2 separate regions of the Homo sapiens genome follow, and region 1 is linked to region 2. The links come from fine-mapping of genetic effects on gene expression. A gene starts in region 2. The other region holds a variant in brackets. All regions are shown on one strand. Distances are from middle to middle.

Region 1 (9,742 bases), 64 kb after region 2:
ATTGTTTTGACCACCTGGGCGCCGGTACACTCGGTGTTGTATCCTCTTTATCTGCCAGATTGCAGTGGGTCAGACCGCCCGTCTTTGCCTGAAGGGAATTCAGGAGGTTTAAAGGAGAAGGAAGAACAGGAGCCAACCAGGACAGCGGGAGGCGGGCGGGGGGTCCTCTCTCTACTTCATTCCCTTCTGTAGGGCATAAGGAGGATATTTTTTTCTAGTGATCATGAGGACGGACCGGAGCCTTTTCCTCCCCCTATAGAAAAGCCATTGCCCTCTTTTCCTCCACCCTTAAAGGGACCTGTATTCGTTGGCCCCGTTCAGGCAATGGCGCCTCCCATCCCCCTTGAGGAGTCTGGAGGCCGCCCAAGAGATGGTTCTTGGATAAGACCTCCAGTCAGTGAATATCTATATGATCGGGTGGCCGTGTCCTCAACGCCAACTCCTCGTCAAACTTTCTTAGTAGAGGGGTGCCTCCAAGAGGGACTTAGGAAGGGAGACTCTGAGGCGCTTTTTGGCGCATTCCCTGTTATTGTTCAAAGCAACAGGAGATGGCATGAGAGTTTGCCTTTTACTGTCTTTAAAGAGTTAAAGAAAAGTATCCGTGAAAACAGTGTACATTCACCGTTTACGAAGGAGGTGATTGAGGCTCTGGGAAATGGCTATAAGATGACTCCACATGATTGGAAAACTTTGGTAAATGTTTTGGTTTCAGCTGCAGAATATACTGTGTGGTGGAGTGAGTACAGTGATTTAGCCATGCAGCAGTCCTTGCAAAATTTGGATAATAATATCCCGATACAACTTGATATGCTATTGGGAACAGGGCCTTTTGCTTCAGCTCAGACTCAGGGTCAAGCAGGTGGCCATCTATTTCCTCAATGCTCACAGCTAGCAATACAAACATAAAAAAAAAAAATCCCGTAAGACAATCCCAGGGTTCCTTTATAACAGTTAAACAAGGTGCCACAGAAACATACATTAAATTTATCAACCGACTGCAAGCTGCAATTGAAAAACAGGTATCCCATCCTAAGGCTACCAAACTTCTTATGTTACAATTGGCTTTTGAAAAAGCAAATAAGGATTGTCAGACAGCAATAACTCCAGTCTAAGCCACTGCCACTGAAATCAGTGTGTTTATTAAAGCATGCCAAAATATAGGCACTACAACTCATCTGACTCAAACTTTTGCTGCAATAATGACCGGAACCACATATTGTAATTGTGACCTAACCAGGCATATGGCAAAAATAACCCTGCTACTGTTTTCCTACCTTTAAGCAAAAAACAATTTCATACTCTTCTAGCTTGTGCTCTTGATTGGCAAATCGCAATAGCTGACTTTATTGGTAATATCAGCTTTCATTTACCAGCCTCTAAGCTCCTGAACTTTTTACAAACTGTGCCTGTTAAATTTGTATCTATTGTTGTTTCTGAGCCCTTGCTTCATGCCACTACTGTCTTTACAGATGGTTTAGGAAAAACTGGAAGAGCAGCTACAGTGTGGCAATAGGCCATGCAAAAATGGCAGCACAAAATCCAGGAACATTTTAAAACCACGCAACAGGCAGAGTTAGGTGCCCTGATATTGGCCTTACAAACTTTTCCTCACCAAGACATAAACATAGTTAGTGATTCCGCTTATGCGGTGTGTAGTATTACTCATTTAGATCTTGCACATGTGAAGGGCATTACTAATGAACCCCTACTAGCTTTGTTTCTTGCAGCGTAAGAGCTCCTCTGTGACCATCATTGTGGGGAAAAGAAAGAGAGATCAGACTGTTACTGTGCCTATGTAGAAAAGGAAGACAAAAGAAACTCCATTTTGATCTGTACAAAGAAAAATTGTTATGCTTTGAGACGCTGTTAACCTGTAACTTTAGCCCCAACCCTGTGCTCACAGAAACATGTGCTGTACTGAATCAAGGTTTAAGGGATTTAGGGGTATGCAGGATGTGCCTTGTTAACTATATGTTTGCAGACAGTATGCTTGGTAAAAGTCATCGCCATTCTCCATTCTCTATTAACCAGGGACACGATGCACTGCGGAAAGCCGCAGGGACCTCTGCCCAAGAAAGCCTGGGTGTTGTCCAAGGTTTCCCCCGACTGAGACAGCCCGAGATATGGCCTCGTGGGATTGGAAAGACCTTACCATCCCCTAGCCCGACACCCGTAAAGGGTCTGTGCTGAGGAGGATTAGTAAAAGAGGAAGGCCTCTTTGTGGTTGAGATAAGAGGAAGTCCTCTGTTTCCCACATGTCCCTGGGAATGGAATGTCTCGGTGTAAAGCCGACTATTCGTTCTATTCTGAGATAGGAGAAAACTGCCCTGTGGCTGGAGGCGAGATATGCTGGCAGCAATACTGCTCTGTTACTCTTTACTAACTGAGATGTTTGGGTAAAGAGAAACATAAATCTAGCCTACGTGCACATCTGGGCACAGTACCTTCCCTTGAACTTATTTATGATGCAGATTCCCTTACTCACATGTTTTCCTGCTGACCTTCTCCCCACCATCACCCTGTTCACCCTGTTCTTCTGCCGCACCCCCCATGCCAAGATAGTGAAAATAGTAATCAATAAACCCTGAGGGAACTCGGAGACCGGCGCCGGTGCAGTTCCTCGCATGCTGAGTGTGCCGGACCCCTGGGCCCACCGTTCTTTCTCTGTACTTTGTGTCTTATTTCTTTTCTCAGTCTCTTGTCTCCACCTGACGAGAAATACCCACAGGTGTGGAGGGGCAAGCCCCCTTCGATCATCACCCTCTTTACATCACACATATTCACTCTCATTCTGGGCTACCTGGTCCCTTATCAGAAGGGAACGCTCGAGCTAATGCTCTGGTACACACACAGATGTGGTTTGCAGACTCTCCTGCTTTTTTGCGAATTCAAGCTGATCATGCTTTTTTTCCATCAGAACGCCTGCAGTCTTAAACAACAGTTTCATTTAACACTTGCTCAAGCTCACATGATTATTAAAACTTATCCTGATTGCCAATGGCATTCTCTTTCCCCTTTTTCCTTAGGACTTGGTGCCAACCCACGAGGTCTGGTGCCTAATGCTATCTGGCAAACTGATGTTACTCAGTATCCACCCTTTGGACGTTTTAAATCTCTCCATGTTACTGTGGACACTTATATAGACCTAATACATGCTATCCCCATGCCGGAGAAAAAACTAAAGATGCAGTTGCTCATTTGTTTGAATCTATTATGACTCCAGGCCTTCCACAAACTGTAAAACTGATAATGGCCCCTGCTATCTTAGTGCTCACTTTGGCTATGCATTGCAACTTTGGCAATAAGATCAACATACAACCCAAGACTGGGATTCTCTGTAACTCAACCAGTCAGGCCATTATTAAACAAGCTCATCAAACTCGTAAAGTATATCTTAATAAACAAAAAAGGGGGAATATCGGGCCCTCTTCTCGAGAACAGGACCTGTCATTGGAGAATCGACTGACAATGACGGTGATGACTCAGAAGGCACCTGACATTACCTGGGGACAGCTAAAGAAATTGGATCAACAGGCAACTATCCGGCTTGCAGGCATAGAAGCCTCTGTAACTGCAGAGAATCAGTTTCTTATGTATCTGGGGGTAATTGGGAAAACTTCTGAGAAAGTAAGACGACATAGATGTTGGGGTGGCTGGTAATTCTTGTCCTTTGCCAAGTGGGATCACCTCAAGAACATGTTTACTGGAGTCATGTTCTAAATCCCCCTGTTTTTAATGTTATTTCATGGTGGGATGCTGACCTGCCTTTGTCATCTAATGATACTTCTTGGACGAGAGGTCGATGGATGCCCCTGTCTTACCCTTCAGTGGAAAATTTGGGATGGATTAAACTTAATAACTCCTTGGTTGTATTGTCTAGTAATCCCCCTCTTTGTTTTTCCACAATAGCACATGCTAAGTGTGTTACTCTTATTCTTCAGGAGTATCTTTACTATCAGTGTAAAAGGGATGCTAAGCTTGCAAACTTGACCTTTATTTCTGCTATTACCACTAATCTTACTGAGGTCTCTAATGAAGCTACACAAGTGCCTGATCTTCCTATATGCCGTCTGAGTAGGGACTGGGGATATAAGTTTGAGGCCATTCAGTGGTCTCCATCCAGACAGCCTGCGCCATGTCAAGGGCCTCTGTTTGATAATGGCACCTTACTTGATTGGAGTCCCCATGGTTATCTTATGTCTGCAAATCAGACTATTGGATCTGGGAGTCCCCAGTAAGTCTATCACCTGGTCAGAGTACAGGCTTTCAGGACCAATATTACAACTAAAAGGGAAACAAGCTTTAAGCCCTGCTCATACCCAAATTTGGAGATTAGAACTTCCTTTTTTTGAATGGGTTCTTTCACATGATGAGTATATTACTAGCAGTGGCAATTATACCCTCTGTTTCCATAATAATGTTACTGACATAGTTGTGATTTGTACTACGCACTCTTATATACTTTTGTTTGGGCAAAGTGTTCCTAATATAGAGCAGAATCAATCCTTTTATAGTAGTAAAGTCTCTTCCAGTAGTTAGTATGCTACATGCCTGTCTCATCGAAATGTTACATAGTTAAATATAACCTATGTCATGATCTTAAAATGGCGTGCAGAATTTTGGCTGCCTGTAAATTTA[G/A]CCTGGAGCTGGGAAGGAGATTCAACCCTGCAGCTGTTTAGAAAAGCACTGTCTCATACTCAGAAAAAAAGATTTCTGGCCACTTTAATTGCTTTTTTAGTCTCAGCTATTATTATATTAGCAACTGCTGCTACTGCAGCTGCTTTTTCTAACAAAATCTATTCACACAGCTTCAGTGGTGAACCACATGGTATATAATGTAACCCATAAATTTCAAAAACAGGTAAATATTAATCAAACTACTCTGTCTCACCTGGAGGCTCTTAAAGCTGCAGTTGAATGGCTGGGGGATCAGCAGCTGGCATTCATTACCCATCAACATTTATATTGTAATTGGCAATATAATTCTATCTATGTCACACCTCTGCCATATAATAGCTCCCAATATGCTTGGGAGAGAGTGAAAACACACCTGCAAGGGGCTTATCACAATCATTAGTCTTCTCAAATTCCCACTCTTAAGTGTAAATTTAAAAAACAACTTAAAAAATGGTCACAGCAATTATAAACAAATACCCTTCAACAATTATAAAAAGGCTTTCAATAGTTAAACCCAAACACTTAGTTATCTGGGTTAAACATACACATTTGGGTAATGGCCAATATACTTATTCTTTTTTGTATTTGTTTGCTAGGTATGTACAAATGGCTCTGTGCTGTCACTCAGTGCATCTATAACCAAGAAAAAGCAATAAAAGCTTACCTCGCTTTAAATAACCAACATACTCTAAAAATTAAAGAAGGGGGAGATGTTGAGGGTGCACGGCAACATATCCAAGCTTATGTACATGGCATTTGAGGTTGGGGCATGGAAAAATACTGAGGCACTCTGTGTATGTTATTTATGCATGAGAATGTAACTCCTTGACCCTAAAAACAGGACAAGGATTGAGGTGTGTAATAAGGAACGCTGAAAACAGCCTCCTAAGAAGGTGGTTTGAGAGCTTTTATAAGGTCATAGGTGTCTCATGACCCTCAAAAAGCCATCTAGTGGATGTTTGTGGTTTAACAAGCTCTTTCAATAAATACTTGGCGGACAGATGCTGGGGTGGACTCTCTCAGAAGAGCTCCCCGCCACCCCCGCTCGAGGCCCACTCAGCTGGAATTGTCTAAGAACTCATTCTTGGCATTCACTGCAAGCTATAAACTCTGCATAAAGTTTCCATATCTACACATTTCTTGGCTACATCAATGGTAATTGCTTGGGTGGCCAAATAGAAAGCTTCCCACAGCAGGTGGGAAGTTCCCATACCCAGGGGAATTATTGACGCTAGCTCAATAGTTGAGAGCTGAGAGGCAGGAAGTGGCAGTGAGTCCTGGTCTCGGGGTGAAGAAACCGGTACTCTAGCTAAGCTCTACCTTGCACTAGCTGTGTGTCCTTAGGTAAGTCACTTGCCCTTTCTGGGAAAAGAAGGGCATTTAAATAAACACTCCTCCAAAAGGAGCTTTCCACATAATATAGCTCAGAGATTAAGAGCAAGGCCTCTGAAACCAGAGAGACTAGAATTCAAATCTCAGTCTTACCCCACCTACAGGCCCTTGACCTCAGACATCTTTCGCTTCTCTGAGTCTCAGCTTCCCCAGCTTTGATGAGAGCGTTTGGGGCCATACTGGCAGGGCTGCAGTAAGCAAGGGAAGTAGGCACGTTGCTTATCAACTAAAAAGCTTTATGCACATGGGTGACAATCATCATTGCCATTATTATCTCCCAAGCCTTTGTTTCCCAGGCTCTCTGAGCACGATGTCTGCAGCTCCCGCCAGCAATGGAGTGTTTGTTGTCATCCCGCCAAACAACGCCAGTGGCCTCTGCCCACCTCCGGCCATTCTGCCCACATCCATGTGCCAACCTCCAGGGATTATGCAGTTTGAGGAGCCACCGCTGGGGGCACAGACACCAAGGGCCACACAGCCACCTGACTTGCGGCCCGTGGAGACATTCCTGACAGGAGAGCCCAAAGTTTTGGGGGTAAGAACAGCCTCTCTGCACAACCTGAGGCAGGTAGTGAGTATCCCAGCACCGGAACATTCATGCATGTTTTGGAGAGGGGAGAAGGCAGTTAACAAATATGTAGTAATGACTCAAAGATTCAGCCATGCACCAGGTAGACAAGCACCCTTCCCGCATAAAGTTCACAGAGAGTAAACCAGTAAACAAATGACTCAGAAACCTCCAAAGAGAAAAGTAAGGTTGAAAATGATGACTAGGGCTAAGGGGAATACTAGCGAGGGTAGGTGGAAACTTGTCTCTGGGGAGATGACATTTAAGCCCAAACCTGGCTGTTAGATTGAAGCCAGCCAAGGGAATAGCTAGTGGAAGGGCTGGAGAGGGAGGGCTCACCAGGTAGAGTGCAAAGGCCTTGGGAATGAGTGTGGCTGTTAAAGGAAGAGGTGGAAGCTCGCCATAGCTGGAATGTAATGAGCAAAGGAAAGGGGGAGGTGAGATGGAATGAAAGTGATAGATGAAAGTCAGCCCTGATAGAGCTGAAGGCACATGAAGGATTTCAATCTCAGATGGCCTTGAGCTATTGGTCTCAATAAAATACTGAAGTCATAAAATATTAGGTAGAGATAGAAAGATACATACACACATTTGCACGTGTGTGTGTATACATGTAGCGTTAAAAAGAAAAGCTTTAGGCCAGGTGAGGTGGCTTACGCCTGTAATCCCAGCACTTTGGGAGGCCGAGGCAGGCAGATCATGAAGTCAGGAGATCAAGACCAACCTGGCCAACATGGTGAAACCCCGTCTCTACTAGAAATACAAAAATTAGCTGGGTGTGGAGCCGTGTGCCTGTAGTCCCAGCTACTCGGGAGGCTGAGGCAGGAGAATTGCTTGAACCCGGGAGGTGGAGGTTGCAGTGAGCTGCGATCATGCCACTGCACTCCAGCCTGGGTGACAGTGTGAGACCCCATTTAAAAAAAAAAAGAAAAAGAAAAGCTTTAAACAAATTAAATTTAGCAGAGTTTATGTGAGCTAAGAATAATTCAGGAATCTGGCAGCACTCAAAACCAGAAGAGGTTCAGAGAGCTCCATCCAGCTGTGTGAGCAGTAAGCTCTTATAGGCCAAACACAGAAGTGAAGTAGAGAAATCTCCCGATCAGCTGCAGCTAGGTGTCTGCCTTATTTGGGCATGATGTCATGAGGCATTTGCCTTATTTGGGCATAGTCTGATCAGTTGGCTGAAGCTGTTTGTCATTAGCTGAAACCCAGCTATCTGTTACAAAAATATACTCCTAGGTTAGGTTTCAGTGTGTTTCTGTACTGGTTGGGTTGCAGTTTGTTATGTAGGAACTCAAATTATGGAGACAGGCTAATGGCCACCTGCTATTTTAATTATATACACACATATGTAGATTCTTCAGTATGTTCCTTGGCCTCAGTTTCTCCAAGTAGAAGATGAAAGCATAGATTAAGCAATGGTGATGATGATGAAGGTGAAGATGATGACAGCTCTTACTTATGAAGCATCTCTGAGAGGTGCACGTACTGTGCCGGGGACTTTGCATGCATCATCTCACTAGATTCTCAGCACCACCTTGTAAGAAGGGGATCATCGTTCCTGTTGGACAGATTACGAAACTGAGGTTTCTTAAGACTAAGTCATTTGCCTAAGGCCACACAGCTGATAAATGGCATCCTGTAAACTAGGGATGGCTGACCCTAAAGTTCTACTTTCAACCCCTCTGCTTTGTGGCGTCCAGGACCTCTGGCTCAATCATGCTGGAATTCTATCCTAATAGCTGCACCACATCCATTGGTGCAGAGGGGGACTGGACTGGGGGCACAGACACCAAGGGCCACACAGCCACTGACTTGTGGCCCATGGAGACAGCGGCTGGAATTTCGAAGCCTCAAAGCGGACCCTGGGAACCAGAGCTCTCCCCCTCCAAAAAAAAAAAAAAAATTGATGAGACAAACAAACTGCTGAAAAGCACAAAAAAGTGGAAAATACAAATAAGAGTTATGGAATGCCACCCGCTAAGAATACCACTGCAGACTTAGCTGGCCTGCCGCCTCATAGCTGGGACACTTCGGGCAAGTTACTGAACATCTCTGACCTTCAGTTTCCTCATCTCCAAAATTAGGATAATAATAACCTACCTCTGGCCAGGCGCAGTGGCCCACGCCTGTAATCCCAGCACTGTGGGAGGCCAAGATGGGTGGATCACCTGAGGTCAGGAGTTCGAGACCAGCCTGGCCAACATGGCGAAACCCCGTTTGTACTAAAAGTACAAAAATTAGCCAGGTGTGGTGGCAGGCACCTGTAATCCCCATTACTCAGGAGGCTGAGGCAGGAGAATCACCTAAACCTGGGAGGCAGAGTTTGCAGTGAGCTGAGATGGTGCCATTGCACTCCAGCCTGGGCAACAAGAGTGAAACTCCTTCTCAAAAATAATAATAATAATAGTAATAACCTACCTCTTCTCATTAGGATTAAATGAGACCACATCTGTAAAACCCCCAGCACAGTGCTTAGCATAGACAGGCATTCAATAAGCGGCAGCTGGTGTTTCCCAAGGCATAATGGCAGTAGCTGTGGTGGTCTATCCACAGGGGAAAGATCTAAGGAAGGGGAGCAACGCTGGCGACTTGGACACCATGCCATGCTGTGCCCTGTGAGGACACTGAAAAGATGAAAGACGTGTAGCTGAAGAGAAAAAGAAGCTGAAGATTCAGGGGCTCATGTCCATGAATATCCAAATACTTGGCACTCATGTTAGAAAGAAATATATATTCCACGTGATGCTGACATGACAATTCTAGTTGTTCCCAGTCAGAACTGCCCATAAAAGGACCATGCTGGTTTGGGTAGTGGTGAGTACTGGTCACTGGAGTCCCCGTGAAAGTCACGGAGCCGGAAGTGGCTCCTGGGCTCCCAGGGCTGGATTCCAGCGGTCTTCAACATCTCTTTCCACTCAGTTCCGGAATTCAATAGTTACCCAAAACGTTGCAATGTTTCTGCTATTTGGCAGACCTTACTAGAAGCTCACACTTGGGAAAACCATCCCACTTCTGGGCATAGACTAGTAGGGTGCTGGTAAACCAACTCTTAGAAAGAGAAAAAATCCCACTGGAGATTTCAGCAGGCTGAGAGGCAGCTGC
Region 2 (16,534 bases):
GGATGGAAGCAGAGATTAAGTTTGAAACTGCTAAAGTAGCTGGAATTCGATGGGCATACCTACAGAGATAGGGAAGCTACTGAACAGATACCTCAGAAGTCTACAAAGAAATTTTCCTTAGGTCCTTAGCTGAATCCTGGCCATATCCTTTAATACAACTTCAGAAGGCCTAACAGAAAGTAAATTCCTGGCCGGGTGTGGTGGCTCACGCCTGTAATCACAGCACTTTGTAAGGGAGGCCGAAGAGGGCAGATCACTTGAGGTCAGGGGTTTGAGACCAGCCTGGCCAACATAGTAAAACCCCATCTCTACTAAAAACACAAAAATTACTCAGGCATGGTGGTGGGCGCCTGTAGTCCCAGCTACTCAGGTGGCTGAGGCAGAAGAATCACTTGAAACAGGAGACGGAGGTTGCAGTGAGCCGAGATCCTGCCACTGCAGACCAGCCTGGGTGACAGAGCAAGACCCTGTCTTAAAAAAAAAAAAAAAAAGAAAAAAAAAAGGAAGTAAATTCCAGGGAGACTGAGAGCTGAGCATGGATTCTTGATCCTACACAGTGTGGTGAGTGGTGAAGTGCAGGCGCAGCCAAAAGAGAGAAACCTTCTTGATCATCCCTGACATTCAAAGGATACTCCAGAGATGCTACAGCTTCTAATTAAGAACGATGAACTAGGAGTACAGGCTACACCTTGGAATAAGAAAAAGGGAGAAAAAGACGCACCCTAACAAAGCCTAAAATCAGGATGCAAGATGATCTGCAAAAATGTAATTGCTGGTGTGCCTCCTCCAAGGAGAGGAAAGAGAATAGTACCCAGATCCTCACATTTTGAACAGATCATCTAGGAAAGAACACTTGGATACAGCAGAGAACAGACGAGAAACACCAGCAGTAAGAAAGGACATGGTGTGAGGAAGCTTGCCCAGCCAGGAACTGACCAAGAGCCAAGAGAGGCTCCTGGACCTAGGGAAACAGGAAGAGAGAAACCCCTAGAACTCCAAAATGGGCTTTTATGATCTTGGCTATGGGAGAAACCCTGTAGTGGATTCACGACAGCATCAGGCCTGGCATATGGAGCTTCCTAAAGATTGCACAGAGATGTTGCCCCAGAAAGGGAACCCACACAGAATCCCACAAGCTTCAGCACCCAGAGCAGCCTCAGCTGGGAGCCATTTTGAGAGCCTGGATACCGGGTATCTACAGACACAGCTGCTGCCACTGAGCAGCTCCAAGGAGGGAGAGGGAAGAACAGGTGCTCCCATGCACCAATGAGAGGGTACCTGCCGCCCTGCTATGGGCTGCAGTTGAGACTGAGACATAAATGAGCCACGTTCCCCACAGCTTCTTGCTCACACTGCTTGCCTGGGAGATGCCCCACCGTCTCTGGTCTAAACCCCAAGGCACCATCTTAAGAGTTGAGTGCTGGACTGTGCCCTGCCCTTGGGCTGAGGTCAAACTAACACAATTACAGCTGCTGCCTAGCCAAGGAGTGACGGGGAAACCAGGCTATCTCATGCAAATATAGGACAATACCCACTGATCTGCAACAGGCTGCTGTGAGACTGAGACGTGAGGGGATGACACTCCCCACAGCTTCTTACATATGCTTCTTGCCTAGGAGGGACCCCACCCTCCCTGGCCACAGGCCTAAGGTGCCATTTTGAGAGTTTAATGCTGGGCTATGCCCCACGGTCAGGCCAAATTCAAGTTGACATGGCTGCAACTACTGCCCAGTCAAGGAGGGATAGGGCAGCCAGGCTTTCCGACGCATACCTAGGACAATATTCAATGCCCTGCCATAGGCTGCTGCAAGACCAACACTCAAGCGAACCACACTTCTCACAGAGTCTTGCCCATACTGTTCGCCTGAGAAGGGCCTGACCCTCTCTGGTCACAAGCCCACAGCTGGCACTATTTTGAGAGTTTAACACTAAGCTGTGCCCCACCCTTGGGCCAAGGTCAAGGTGACACAACAGCAGTCGCCACCCAACTGAGAGAGAGACAAGGAAGACCAAGGTCTCCAAAGCACACTTAGAACAATACCCACTGCCCTGCTAAAGGCAGCTGTGGGACCAGGGAGTAACCCACCCAATCCATTGCAGCTTCCAGCAACACCAACACAGATGGCATGGGTCACTGTGGTTTCCTCCACCACTGCTACTGCCACACCACGCCAGCTTCCCAGGGGCCTGAGACTCCACCCACACACCAGGCCCACTGCTCCCACTGCCCACTTCTAAGCAAGCAGCTTGGAGGCCCAAGAATGAGCCCTCTAGGACCGCTAACACAAGGGCCAGTATAAGCCACTCTGGAGCCTTAAAACAGGCTCGCTCACCCCAATGCTGCCACTACTCGGGCCCAAAGACTGGCTCAGTTGGTGTATTAGTTTGTTCTCACACTGCTATAGAGAAATACCTGATGGCCAGGCACAGTATTTGGGAGGGTGAGGCAGACAGATCACTTGAGGCCAGGAGTTTGAGACCAGCCTGGACAACATGGTGAAACCCTGTCTCTACTAAAATACAAAAATTAGATGGGTGTGGTGGTGCACACCTGTAATTCCAGCTACTTGGGAGGCTGAGGCATGAGAATCACTTGAACCTGGAAGGCGGAGGCTGCAGTGAGCTGAGATCGCAACACTGCACTCCAGCCTGGGTGACAGAGTGAGACCCTGTCTAAAAAAAAAAAAGAAGAAAGAAAGAGAGAGAGGGAGAGAGAGAAAGAAAGAGAGAAAGAGAGAAAGGAAGGAAGGAAGGAAGAGAAAGAAAAAAAGAAAGAAAGAAAGAGAAAGGAAAGAAAGAAAGAAAGAAAGAAAGAAAGAAAGAAAGAAAGAAAGAAAGAAGGAAAGAAAAAGAAAGAAAGAAAGAAAGAAAGAAAGAAAGAAAGAAAGAAAGAAAGAAAGAAAGAAAGAAAGAAAGAAAGAAAGAAAAAGAAAGAGAAAGAAAGAAAGAAAGGAAAGACCTGAGACTGGGTAATTTAAAAGAAAATAGGTTTAATTGCCTGGTGGTTCCACGGACTGTACAGGAAGCATGGCAGCATATGCTTCTGCAGAGGCCTCAGGGAGCTTTTCCTCATGACAGAAGGCAACATGGGAACAGGCATCTTACATGGTAGGAGCAGAACCGAGGCGGGGGGGTGCCCCACACTTTTAAACAACCAGATATCACACAAACTCACTCACTATTGTGACACAGTACCAAGGGGAAAATCTGCTCCTGTGATTCAATCGCCTGTCACCAGGCCCCACCTCCAACACTGGGGATTGCAATTCAACATGAGATTTGGGCAGGGACACAGACCAAAACCACATCAGTTGGCATCTAAGTCCCCAGCTAAAAGTCACCACAACCTTAACTGTACCATAAGTCACCAAGGCAATCCCAGAGACCACTGACTTTGTGTACTGCGAAAGAAGTCAAACAAAGATCACACTACTGCCAGCATGCAAAATCAAAGTCGAAGTATCTTAATCAACAACACGTACACAACCTCAGAAAAAAAAAAAAAATTCCCCTACCAAAGCAATTTCAAAAAATTGGAACAAGCAACTGCTACACTAGATGCAAAGACATCAATGGAAAAACACAGGAAGCATGAAAAAGCAGGGAAATGGGATATCATCAAAGGACCATAATTGTCCAGCAACAGATTCCAACAAAATGAATCCCTTGAAATGCCAGATAAATAATTTAAAATATTGATTTTTAAAGAAGCTTAATGAGATGCAAAGGATATCTGAAAATCAGGCCAGGCATAGTGTCTCGTGCCTGTAATCCCACTGTAATCCCAGCACTTTGGGAGGCCATGGCAGGTAGATCACATGAGGCCAGGAGTTCAAGACCAGCCTGGGCACCATACTGAAACCCTGTCTTTCTACTAAAAATACAAAAAAAAATGTAAGCTAATACAAGAAAATCAGTAAATCAATTCAGAAAATGAAAGAAAATAAAATCTCAGTACCTGAAGACATGTCTTTTGAAGTAATTCAGCCAGACAAAAATAAGGAAAAAAGAATTACAAAGGATAAACAAAGCCTTTAAGATATCTGAGATGATATAAAACAACCAAACTTACAAATTATCAGTACACCCAAGGGGGTAGAGAGATTCAAAAGTTTAGAAATGGCCAGGTGTAGCGGCTCATGCCTGTACTCCCAGCAATTTGGGAGGCCAAAGTGGGAGGACTGCTTGAGATCAAGAGTTCAAGACTAGCCTAAGCAAGAAAACAAGAATCTGCCTTTACAAATTTTTTTTTTTAAATTAGCCAGGCATGGTGGCTCATGTGTGTCATCCCAGCTACTTGAAGGGCTAAGGTGGGAGGATTGCTTGAGCCCAGGAGTTTGAGGTTGCAATGGGCCATGATTGTGCCACTGCACTCCAACCTGGGTGACAGAGTGAAACAAAACAAAACAAAAGCTTAGAAAACATATTTGAGGAAATAATCAATAAAAATGTCCCAAGAATATCAAGAGAGTTAGACATAAAGATACAGGAAGTCCAGTGATACCCAGGCAAACACATTGCAAAAAGGATCTCACCATGGCAATATTATATTCAGAATGTCTAAAGTCAATGAGAAAGAAAGAATTTTGTCAGTAACAATACAAAAGTTTCTAGTCACCTATAAAGAAAACTCCATTAGACTAACAGCAGACTTTTCAGCAGAAATCTTACAGGCCAGAAGAGAAGGGAATGGTATTTTCAAAGTGCTTGAACAAAAGAACTATCAGCCAAGAATTTTGTGTCCTGCCAAAATAGGTTTCATAAATAAAGTCCTTTCCAGGCAAGCAAACACTGAGGGAATTTGTCACCCCTACAAATGGTCACCCTACAGGAAATGCTCAAAGAGGTCTTAAACATGTGAATGAAAAGTCAATATCCATCATCATTAAAACCCATGGAAATATAAAACTTACAGTTTGTATAAAACAATCACACAAAGGAGGAAAAGAAAGGAATCAAATGGCAACATGACAAAATTTTACTAAACCACAAAGACAAAAAGACAGAAACAAAGAATCTATAACTTGAAATCGATCAACAATATGACAGGAACAAAGCTTCACATATCAATATTAACCCCGAAAGTAAATGGACTAAATGCTCCACTGAAAAGATGCAGATTGGCAGAATGGGTTTAAAAAATAATCCAAGTATATGCTGCCTACAAGAAACTCACCTTACCCACAAAAACACATATAGGTTGAAAGTAAAGAGGTGGAAAAGATATTCCAAGCAAACAGAAATAAAAGCAAGCAGGAGTAGTTATCCTTATGTCAGATAAAATAGACTTTAAATCAAAAACAGTAAGAAAGAACACAGAAGGGCATTACATAGTGATAAAGTGATCAAGAAGATGTAACAATCCTAAATATATATGCACCCAACATTGGAGCACCCAAATTTACAAAACAAATATTACTGCAGAAAACCAAATACCACATGTTCTCACTTATAAGTGGGAGCTAAATGATGAAAACTCATCAACACAAAGGGAACAATAGACACTGAGATCTATTTGAGGGTGAAGGGTAGGACGAGGAAGAGGAGCAGTAACATAACTATTGGGTACTGGGCTTAATACCTGGGTGATGAAATAATCTGTACAATGAACCCCCATGACATAAGTTTACCTATGTAATAAACCTTCATGTGTACCCCCAAACCTAAAAAAACACACACAAATATTACTACACCTAAAGAAAGAGAAAGACGAGAAAGGCAGCAACACAATAATAGTGGGGGACTTAACCACCCCACTTGCAGCACTAGACAGATCATAGGGAGAAAAAATTAACAAAGAAACATTGGCCTTAAATTGGACTTTAGACCAAATGGATTTAACAGGTATTTGTGCAGTGGTGCAATCTTGGCTCACTGCAACCTCCACTTCCTGGGTTCAAGTGATTCTCCTGCCTCAGCCTCCCAAGTAGCTGGGACTACAGGCATGCACCACCATGCCCGGCTACTTTTTTGTGTTTTTAGTAGAGACGGGGTTTCAGCATGTTGGTCAGGCTGGTCTTGAACTACTGACCTCAGATGATCCACCCTCCTCGGCCTCCCAAAATGCTGGGTTTACAGGCATGAGTCACTGCGCCTGGCCCAGAATATGCATTATTTTTATCAGCACATGGACCATTCCCCAAGATAGACTACATGTTAGGCCACAAAACTAGCCTTAAGAAATTTTTAAAAATTGAAATCATGTCAACTATCTTCTCAGATGACAATGCAATAAAGGTAAAAATCAGTACCAAGAGAAATTTCAGAAAGTATACAAATACATGGAAACTAAACAGCATGCTCCTGAACAATCACTGGGTCAATGAAGAAATTAAGACAGAAATTTAAAATTTTTATGAAATGAAAAGAAAAACACATCTTACCAAAACCTGTGGGATACAGTGAAAGTAGTTCTATGAGGGAAATTTATAGCATTAAATGCCTACATCAAAAAAAGCAGAAAGATGACAAATTAACAGCTTAATATTGTATCTCAAGGATGTAGAGAAACAAGGAGAAATCAAACCCGAAATTGGCAGAAGAAAAAAAAAAAGATCAAGGCAGGACTAAATAAATCAGAAATGAAAAAAGAATAAAAAGGATCAACGAAATGAAAAGTTTGTTCCTTGAAAAGATAAAATTGATAAACCACTAGCTAGACTAATAAAAGGGAGAGAAGATTCAAATAAACACAATCAGAATTGAAAATGAAGACATTACAATTGATACCACAGCAATACAAAAGGCTCTGACATAAGGATTTGGGTGCTTACTTGGGAAGTGACCCAAGACTCACTGTGAAAAAAAATGGAAAAGTGATACCAAAAAAAGGAAGAAAGTCAATAGACTATGTATTAATGAATGAGTTCTGTTATAGGGAACTGGTGCTTAATCCTGTTGGAGACTCTCTAAGAGACAGTTGAAACACACTTCAAAATTATTTCTCTTAGGGGACAGAGAAGCTAGGGTAGTTATCCAGCATATGCACGTTACACTGGATAGGAAAAATTCTTGTGGGATTAACTTCCCAGCACCTATGGCCTGCCCCATACCTATGCATCCTCGGAAAAGAAAGGAGTTGTCCATAGATGTGGAGACTGGCTGAAGATGCAGCATCAATACAGCATTTGCTGCAGAGTTTGCTCAGAGTTTGAGGCTGCAGTGAGCTATGATCACGTTACTGTACTCTAGCTTGAGCAAGACCCTGTCTCAAGACCTCCAGAGTGGATCAAGGGGATATAGATGCTGCATCAACAGCATTTGCTGAAGTAGGTTTGGACAATAATAATCTCCCTTGTATGTCTCCGGTCCCTTCTAGAAAGTTGGCACCACTTCTATAAACTCAATTAAAAGGTGACAAATTTCATCTTCTACAATATCTGGTTAAACCTGGTCCTGAATGTCCCACGTGCACTAGGGCTTAGCCACCTATATGTCCTCATTCAGATGCCTCTTATTATTTCTGTCAATACAGTTTGGTTCATGTTATTCGTCTTTACAAAAAGCTATTGAGTTACTTTATAGAGTTAGACAAATGCTAAAGTTCATTTGGAAAAACAAACATGCAAGAATAGCCATAAAATATAATGAAAAAGGAAAAATTACACAGGAGACTAACCCTACAGGACATTGAAGTACACTGGAAAGCCTCTATAATTAAAACATTGTTGAAATAACACATGAATAGACAAATAGACCAATAGAAAGTAAAAGAAAGACCAGAATTAGAACCAAATGCATATAGAAATTTAGGCTGTGACAAAGGTGGCATTTCAAATGCCGCTGAAGAGAAGATGAGCTATTTAATAAATTGCCCTGGGGCAGCCAGGTAGACTTTTGGAAAAATTTAAAATTAGACCCACATCTCATAGCATTCACAAAAAAATACATTTTACATGTATTAAGAATCAAAATGTAAAAAGTAAAACAATACAAGTATTAGAAGAAAACACAGCTAAATTCCTGTTTAATCTTAGTGTTAGGAAAGGCTTTCAAACAATGACTCAAATGCATAGGTAATAAAAGATAAGACTGATAAATTTTACTACAAAAATTTTTAAAATTTTTCTTGACAGAAAACCACCCTAAACAAAATCAAAAGACACTGTCAAAATTGGAGAATATACCAAAGACAAAGACCTAAAATCCCTAGTATGTAAAGAACTCTTTAAAAATTAAGGGACAAAGGTCCAGGAATCTGATAGAAAAAATGGGTAAAGAAGTAAAATTTGGGTTAGGCATGGTGGCTCACTCCTGTAATCCCTGCACTTTGGGAGGCCGAGGCAGGAGAATCATTTGAGGCCAGGAATTGAAGACCAGCCTGGGCAGCATAGTGAAATCCTGTCTCTACAAAAAATTTTAAGATTTAGCTGGCCACAGTAGTGCGTGCCTGCAGTCCCAGCTATTCAGGAGGCTGAGGCAGGTGGATTGCTTGAGCCTGGGAGTTTGAGGCTGCAGTGAACTATCACTGCACTCCAGCCTGAGCAAGACCCTGTCTCTAAAAAATACAAACAACAACAAAAAAGTGAAGTCTGACTCCAGCTACCTTTTCATCTTTTTTACATTCAATGTCCTTCACTGTGAGCCATTCCCAACATATCTCTACCTTCTCTTCCCCAAGACTTTTCCCTTTCCATACCCTCAACGGTGTTCTTTTTGTTTTGACCATCTTACAATGTTCTAGCCATCCCATCAACTTCATTTGTTCTTCATTGTTCACCTTCTTCAACGGTAAATCTGTCATGGACTATTACATGCAGCTGTTTTTGTACTGTGCAATTCACACGATGTATGTCATAGATATGTGGAATGCCCTCCCATGGATGGCTTCTGATTTTCTATTGGCTCTGACTTGGATGAAAATAGATCTAAGTTGATTACAAGTCTCATTTCACTCGCTGTGATTCTATCCCTTTCTGGACTGCAGTTTATTGATTTCATATGCCACCTTCTGTTTGAAGTCTTCCCTAATCTCTTCAAGTCCAACAAATCATTTTCTCCTCTGTTCTCCTGTGGGGACATTTATCTCTCTTCTGTGGTGTTTATTTCATCCTGTCTCATGTTACAGCTAAATACAGCACACCCTGGGTGCCCAGTTCATTTCTGTGTCTCCCAGAGCAACCAGCCCAACCCTTTCTTCTCCATGGAGATTATACCATAGACTCTTGTCAAATCAAACCATATTTAACTGGCTCATTAACCAAAACAGGAAATAAATACGAATGAAACTGAGCTCTAAGCAGCATGTAACCTGGCCTGCATCCAGGAAATAGAGGACTTCGGATCCTTCTAACCCTACCACCCAACTGGCCCCAGTACATTCATTCTCTCAGGAAAAAAAACAAGGTCCCCACAGCAAAGAAAAGGAATAGGATCAAGAGATACGTGGCTGCTGGCAGAGCAAGGTGAGTCTGCTTAATCTGGTGGTTGGTAACTGGGAGTTGGTGATAAGGTTTTTCTACCAAGTGAGACTTACGGCGAACCAGTGTGGATGAGGGATAGACAGAGTGTATTGTACTAGCTTTATTGAGTCTGCTCCAAGAGAAAGAAAGAGAAAGATAGGACATGGAGGGGGATGGGAGAAACAAAAAGAAAAAGAATTTTTAAAACCACATTAGAATGTATAAGTAGCCTAGAAAATTGAGCAGTGGAAGCCACCCAATGAACAGACACTGCCTTGGCAATGGGGCTTCCCTTGAGAAGGATAATCTCCATTTAACTAATATTGACATACCTGGGACCTTGGAGGATTCTTGTCCACTCTCTCACCCTGTTTCCTTTTCCAGAAAATGAGAGAATTGAACTCAATGTTGTCCAAGAGATTTTCTAGTTCTGAACTTTTGCTTTCAGCCAGTACTAACATATGCAAAGCAGCACTCTAAACACTATGAGAGGCCGGGTGCGGTGGTTCACATCTGTAATCCCAGCACTTTGGGAGGCCGAGGCAAGCGGATCGCCTGAGGTCAGGAGTTCGAGACCAGCCTGGCCAACAGGGGGAAACCCCATCTCTACTAAAAATACAAAAATTAGCTGGGTGTGGTGGCGGGGGCCTGTAATCCCAGATACTCAGGAGGCTGAGGCAGGAGAATTGCTTGAACCTGGGAGGCGGAGGTTGCAGTGAGCCAAGATCGTACCACTGCACTCCAGCCTGGGTGACAGAGCCAGACTCTGTCTCAAAAAAAAATTAAAAAATAAACACTATGAGAGACACAAAGATGGAAAAGATGGACCCCTTGCCCTCTGGTAGCCTTTAGCCTCTTTGAGTCTTAGTTTTCTCATCTGTAAAACTGGGCGGGTGAGAGGATGAAAGGAAATGTATTTGTAAAGCACCTCTTAAGTGCCCTATAACTGATATCTATTATTTGTAACATGGGATTCATAAACTTGTAGAGGGTTAAGATGCTCCAATGAGCTAGAAGAAGCAAAAGTCCTTTTTAAAGGACAAGTCCATATGTGAGGGAAAATTCTCTCGCATTTATTTCTTGGCAGCATGAATTCGATGACTTCAGCAGTTCCGGTGGCCAATTCTGTGTTGGTGGTGGCACCCCACAATGGTTATCCTGTGACCCCAGGAATTATGTCTCACGTGCCCCTGTATCCAAACAGCCAGCCGCAAGTCCACCTAGTTCCTGGGAACCCACCTAGTTTGGTGTCGAATGTGAATGGGCAGCCTGTGCAGAAAGCTCTGAAAGAAGGCAAAACCTTGGGGGTAAGTGAGATTTCCCTTTGCAGGCCACAGACTGCACAGCTGGAGTGATGGCAGGGGGAAGGGAAGGCCTGGGAAATACACAAACACTACATCCCGCAAGTGGGGCTGAGTTGATCGCGCCTTGCCAAGCACAGGTCTATTAGAAAGCTCAGCTGCACAACATCACAGGCGGCCTCTGCTCAGACCTTGTATTTTCTGATTTAGGCATTTTCGGAAAGAGAAAGAAAAGCAACAAAAAAGCAGCACGCTTGAAGGTTGATCCTGTTGCCAGGATCCACGCCCAGCCCTGTGGCCTCTGAAGAAAGGGGTCCCAGCAAGACCAAAATAGACCACAAGGTGGAGTCAGAATCCAATAAGATCGAATCAAATATTTGCCCAACAGGAAACAAAGCAGGTTAGGCAACCAACAACATAAATGGTCACCGCAACCCCTGAGAGGCTGTCCTGCGCTGGACAAAGAAAGGCCCATTTCACTGTGTAGCTGAATGATGGGCATGAATTTGGATGCAGACTGCCCGAGCTCCAACCCTAGCTCCACCCTCAGATAGTGCTCATGGGAACAAAAATTGATACAACCCTTAGGGAGGGAAATTTGTATCTGCCAAATTTACAAAATATCCAATAATTCCATTGCTGGAACTTCATCCTCCAGATATGCCTGTGCCCACAAAAACTGTGATATGTATGAGCTTATTCATTGCAGCGTGGTTTGTGATAACAAAAATATTGTAATATCCATCAATATAATACCGGTTAAGTCAGTATATTGGTTAAGTCAGTGTAATATACTGGTTAAGTCAGTGCATCCAAAGAATAAAATGTAGTGGAGCTATGAAAAGAACAAGAAAGCTCTTTGTGTAATGATAGGGACACACCCCAAGATATGGAGTTAATGGAAGAAAGTAAGGGGCAGACACTGTGTATAATTTGCTTACATTTATGTGAATTTAAGGAAGTAATATATTTGTATTTGCTACCACGTGTGTAATATACAAACATACACAGATGTTCTTTCATTTACAATGGGATTATGTCCCAGTGTACCCATCGTAAATTAAAAATATCATAAGTAAAAAATACATTTAATACATGTAGCCTACCAAACATCATAGCTTAGCCTCGCCTACCTTAAACAAGTTCAGAACACTTAGGTTAGCTTACAGCTGGGCAAAATCATCTAACACAAAGCCTATTTAATAGTGTTCTTGAATATCTAATGTAGTTTACTGAACACTGGACTGAAAATGAAAAGCAGAATGATTGTATGGGTACTCCAAATACGGTTTCTACTGAATTCATGTCACTTTCACACCATAATAAAGTTGAAAACTTTGTTTTTTTGAGACAGAGTCTCACTCTGTCACCCAGGCTGGAGCGCAGTGGCGCAGTCTTGGCTCACTGCAACCTCTGCCTCCTGGGTTTAAGCGATTCTCCCGCCTCAGCCTCCCAAGTAGCTGGGATTACAGGCACCCACCATCATGCCGAGCTAGTTTTTGTATTTTTGTAGAGACAGGGTTTCACCATGTTGGCCAGGCTGGTCTTGAACTCCTGACCTGTGATCCGCCCGTCTCAGCTTCCCAAAGTGCTGAGATTACAGGTGTGAGCCACTGTGCCTGGCCCACATGGCATTTTTTATAAGGACACCAATCATATTGGATTGGAGACCCACTCTACTCCAGTGTGACCTCATCTTGGCTGATTATATCTGCAACAACTCTGTTTTCAAATAGAGTCACATTCTGAGGCACTCAGCATTAGAATTTCAACACATGAATTTGGAGGAGGGTTGGGGGAGGGGAGCATAATTTAACACATAACAATATCCTAAAGAAATAAGAGATGAAGGCAAAGATTTACATAGAAGGATGTTTATCACAATGTTACATATAATAGAAAAAAGTAGAAATAATCTTACCTGTCCAATAACTCTGTCTCAACTACTCCACAGACCATCCATAATGGGATCTGAGCAGCCCTGAAAAAACATATGTTCCAAGAATACTTAATGCCATGAGGACACATTCATGATGAAATATTAAGTTAATAAAATTCAGGGGGCCATGTTGTGCTATCAAGGTATATATTTGAAAAGAATAATGGGAGAATACACCAAAATGTAAACAGTTGTTTTCTCCAGGCGGAGGGGAGATTACAGGTAGTTTTTATTTCATTTTTGTATTTCCCATATTACTTTTTAGACCATGAAAATAAAACATTTATTAAAATTAAAAGGAGGCTCATAGGGGAGGCAGGACCCAGCCTCAGAAACAAGACTTCAGCTTGTGGCTCTCCTGACAGGCCATCCAGATCATCATTGGCCTGGCTCACATCGGCCTCGGCTCCATCATGGCGACGGTTCTCGTAGGGGAATACCTGTCTATTTCATTCTACGGAGGCTTTCCCTTCTGGGGAGGCTTGTGGGTGAGTAACTCAAGTCCTCCTGCCGATGAGCTCCCAGAAGGTGCCAAGGCACTCAAGGCCACCTTGCCAAGTTGTGCAGCTGTGCCCTGCAGAAGGTTCCCAGCCACCCAAATGTGGGGGATAGGAAACCAGCCAGCCCTGGCCTCGTTCCGCAAGCATATTAGTTTGGTAGGGCCGGCCCAACAGAGTATAGCACCACAGGTTGGATGGCTTAAACAACAGAAATTTGTTATCTCACAGTTCTGGCGGCTGAAAGTCTGCGATGGAGATGTTAGCAGATGTTTTCCCCTAAGGTCTCTCTCCTTGGCTTGCAGAAGGTCGTCTTCTCCCTGAGCCTTTCCACGGCCTTCCTCCATGCCTGTGCCCTAGTCTCCTCTTCCTATGAGGACACCAGTCATTTTGGATTAGGGTCCCCCCTGATGACCTCATTTAACCTGAATGACGGTTTTAACAACCCTATCTCCAAACACAGTCAGATTCTGGAGCACTACAGATTAGGGCTTCAATCTACGAAATTTGGTGGGGGATAGAGGGTGTGGACACAATTCAGCCCATAATATCAAGCTACAACCCCGCAAGGTGACATCCCCTCAAAAGGGATGTATTTTCTTTTTACTTTTTTTTTTTTTTTTTTTTTTGAGATGGAGTCTCACTCTGTCGCCCAAGCTGGAGCGCAGTGGTGCAATCTCGGCTCACCGCAACCTCCCCCTCCCGGATTCAAGCAATTCTCCTGCCTCAGCCTCCCTAGTAGCTGGGATTACAGACGCGCACCACCACGCCCGGCTAATTTTTGTATTTTTAGTAGTGACAAGATTTCACCACGTTGGCCAGGCTGGTCTCAAACTCCTGACCTCAGGTGATCCACTTGCCTCAGCCTCCCAAAGTGCTGGGATTACAGGTGTGAGCCACCACACCCGGCCAAAAGGGATGTGTTTTCTTAATTCACAAAGAAAACATCCACATGTAAAAAATACACTGGGAATAGCCCCTGGCATTGTTGGACATAGGCCCACAAGCCTGAGCTCCAGGAGAAAAACACTCAGCAAAGGTGAAGAGTGGCTTCCCAGCTGTAGAACAGCAAGGGTTTGAGTGCTTGAGCACTGGGGACTCAATCTAGATCTGCAGATGGGCTTTGGGGGCTCCATTTTGGCAAAATACCTAATATGCTAAATGTGTATTATTTTTCTGGAAGGGTCCATAGCTTTCATCAGATTATCAGAGTGATCCGTGACTCCATAAAGTGTTAAGAACTACAGTCCTTCTTCCACATCAGTTTATTACCTTTATGGTTCCTTTGCAGTGTCCCCCTGCCCACACACACACACACACACACACATACACACACACACATACAAACAAACACACATACACACACACACACATACACACACACACTCTCTCTCTCTCTCCTTCTCCTCCCCTCTCCACCTTCCTTTCTCCTTTCTCTCCCTTCTGTTACAGTCTTCCTCCTGACTCACACACCTACATGTGACACTAATGCAACTTTCCTCATAAATGGCACAACTCCAGAGTAACCTAGGTGCCAGCCCAAGTCCCTCTACCTTATAAGAGTTAAATAAAATAGCCTAGAGCTATCTCCATCCCCGACAGCCACACAAGTTCTGCAAATGAACAGGGCTCCTCTAGCGAGGCTCTGCACACACCCAAACTCAGAACTCAGCCCCTTTCCCTCCCACAACCACTCACAAGATACCTGTTCCTGTATCTCTGACCTTCGTGGAATGTGGGGCTATGGAGAGGGCTAGCATCACGGCCACCCAGGCCTACCATTGAGCACACAATGCCTACCACGGAGCACTGGATTCCACCAAGTGCCAGTGAGCAGCAGGCAGTTGTCCTGGCATCTCAAATGCCTCACTGACCACGCCTCCTCCCACCAGGCTGCTGAGTCCCTTCAGCCCTCATGACCTTCCTCCTTTTGCTCTGCAGGGCAGTTGTGCTCTTTGCTGCCTTCTTGATCCCAGGACTGTCTTTCTATTTCCCAAAGATCATCAATATCCTCTTCTGAAACAAAGGCTCATCTCCTCTGGCACCTCAGAAGGACTGAGAGGGATACCAAAAGTCCAGCCCTTCCTCCCCATCAAATCTCTATAAACAGAAGGGTGTGAGCCTGAGATTTGTTTTTCCACTCATAGGAGAATATGGCCTTGGCCTTGGAAGGCAGAAACAGCTGGAATAAGTTTTCACTGTAAATAACTATGTCCACTCTATGGCACATGCATCTGCCGTGGGTGGGAGGGAGTATGGAGTGAGGGTTAGGAACATGGAGTCTGAAATCAAGCTGTCTGGATTTGATTCTCAAATGCATGTGCCATAGAGTGGAAACACTTATTTACAATGAAAACTCCGCTGGATGATGTTGTGTGAGTTGTTCAAAATCTCTAAGCCTCAGTCTCCTCATTGATAAAATGGCAAGAGTAATACTGCTTGATGGGCCACCATGTGGTTAAATGAGGCGAGGTTGAACAAGTACTTCATCTGTTGGGGGGAGGGCGGTGATGGGTTGCTAGTCGGTACGTGGCTTCTTTTGGGGCCGTTGCAAATGTTCTAACTTACATTGTAGTGATGATTGCACAACTTTATAAATATACTAAAAATAATTGCATAATATACTTTAAATGGGTGAATTATATGATACATGAATTATATGTCAATGAAGCCTTTTCTAAAAAAGCATTTTCTATAGTGCCCCACAAATGGTAGCTCCTATTAAATATAGCTCATGCCCTCTCATACCACTCTTGCTAGCCCACTGGGCAAATGATGGCAGGCAATCCCATCAGCCACAGTGCCTGCGGAATACCATGTTGGATGAAATGCACGCAATTGACATCATCATCCTCGTATTTGATGTTCAGCATCATAGCGACACAATGTTTATCTGAGTAACTAAAAGTTATTTGTCCAGATATGCAGGCAGGCAAGGATTGATGTCAGGCTTCTATCTAAAAGCAGCAGAGAAGACGCTGGTAACCCCTTCCTTCTCCCCTCCAGAGCCCCCAAACCTAACTGAATCTTGATATAAAGATTGGAAAACAATAGGGTGTACTTGTGGGAAAATAAAATACAAGGAAATAATCCAACATTTGAGCATCTACTAAGTGTAAAGATATACTAAATGCCAGATGTAGGGCATAAGTTGTCTCATGACAATGACACTTGGGAAGAGCTATAAATTTTTCCATTTTGTAGATGAGGAAATAAAGACTTAGAGAAGTTAATAACTTACCCAAGGTCAAGAGTTTCTAGCCAGAATTTAAAACCAGGTTTGCTGGATCCTAGAATATATATTTATCCCACCCCAGTGCCTTTTCAGGCAGTGCAAAACAGCTCATTTTTTCTGTTGCCCATGTTGAGCTGATGGTTCCAGCAAAGGTACCCACT

Which allele goes with the higher level. Positions count from the first base shown, and alleles are read on the strand shown. Sizes are in standard deviations (SD) of each study's normalised expression.
In carriers of allele A in region 1, the expression in skeletal muscle of the gene that starts at base 9,241 in region 2 tends to be lower than with G alone (moderate effect, 0.60 SD a copy in FUSION).

The links.
Region 1: its variant is fine-mapped to the expression of MS4A8 in skeletal muscle (FUSION, PIP 0.95).

What each region holds. Positions count from the first base shown.
Region 1 is chr11:60,757,355-60,767,096 of GRCh38, forward strand. MS4A15 (membrane spanning 4-domains A15) reads left to right here. Exons shown (of 7, transcript NM_001098835.2): 2 at 6,352-6,604. The coding sequence starts at 6,380. Among named protein-coding and RNA genes, the nearest start is that of MS4A15, 5.4 kb to the left of the region's middle. RefSeq lists enhancers at 5,809-5,868, 5,899-5,988, 7,069-7,198, 7,926-8,105. The variant G/A (reference allele first, on the strand shown) is at 4,639.
Region 2 is chr11:60,690,372-60,706,905 of GRCh38, forward strand. MS4A8 (membrane spanning 4-domains A8) reads left to right here and starts at 9,241. Exons shown (of 7, transcript NM_031457.2): 1 at 9,241-9,404; 2 at 10,489-10,708; 3 at 13,007-13,129. The coding sequence starts at 10,490. LOC105369321 (a long non-coding RNA gene) reads right to left here and starts at 13,558. Exons shown (of 6, transcript XR_001748240.2): 1 at 13,368-13,558; 2 at 12,624-12,683. RefSeq lists enhancers at 10,285-10,786, 10,787-11,286.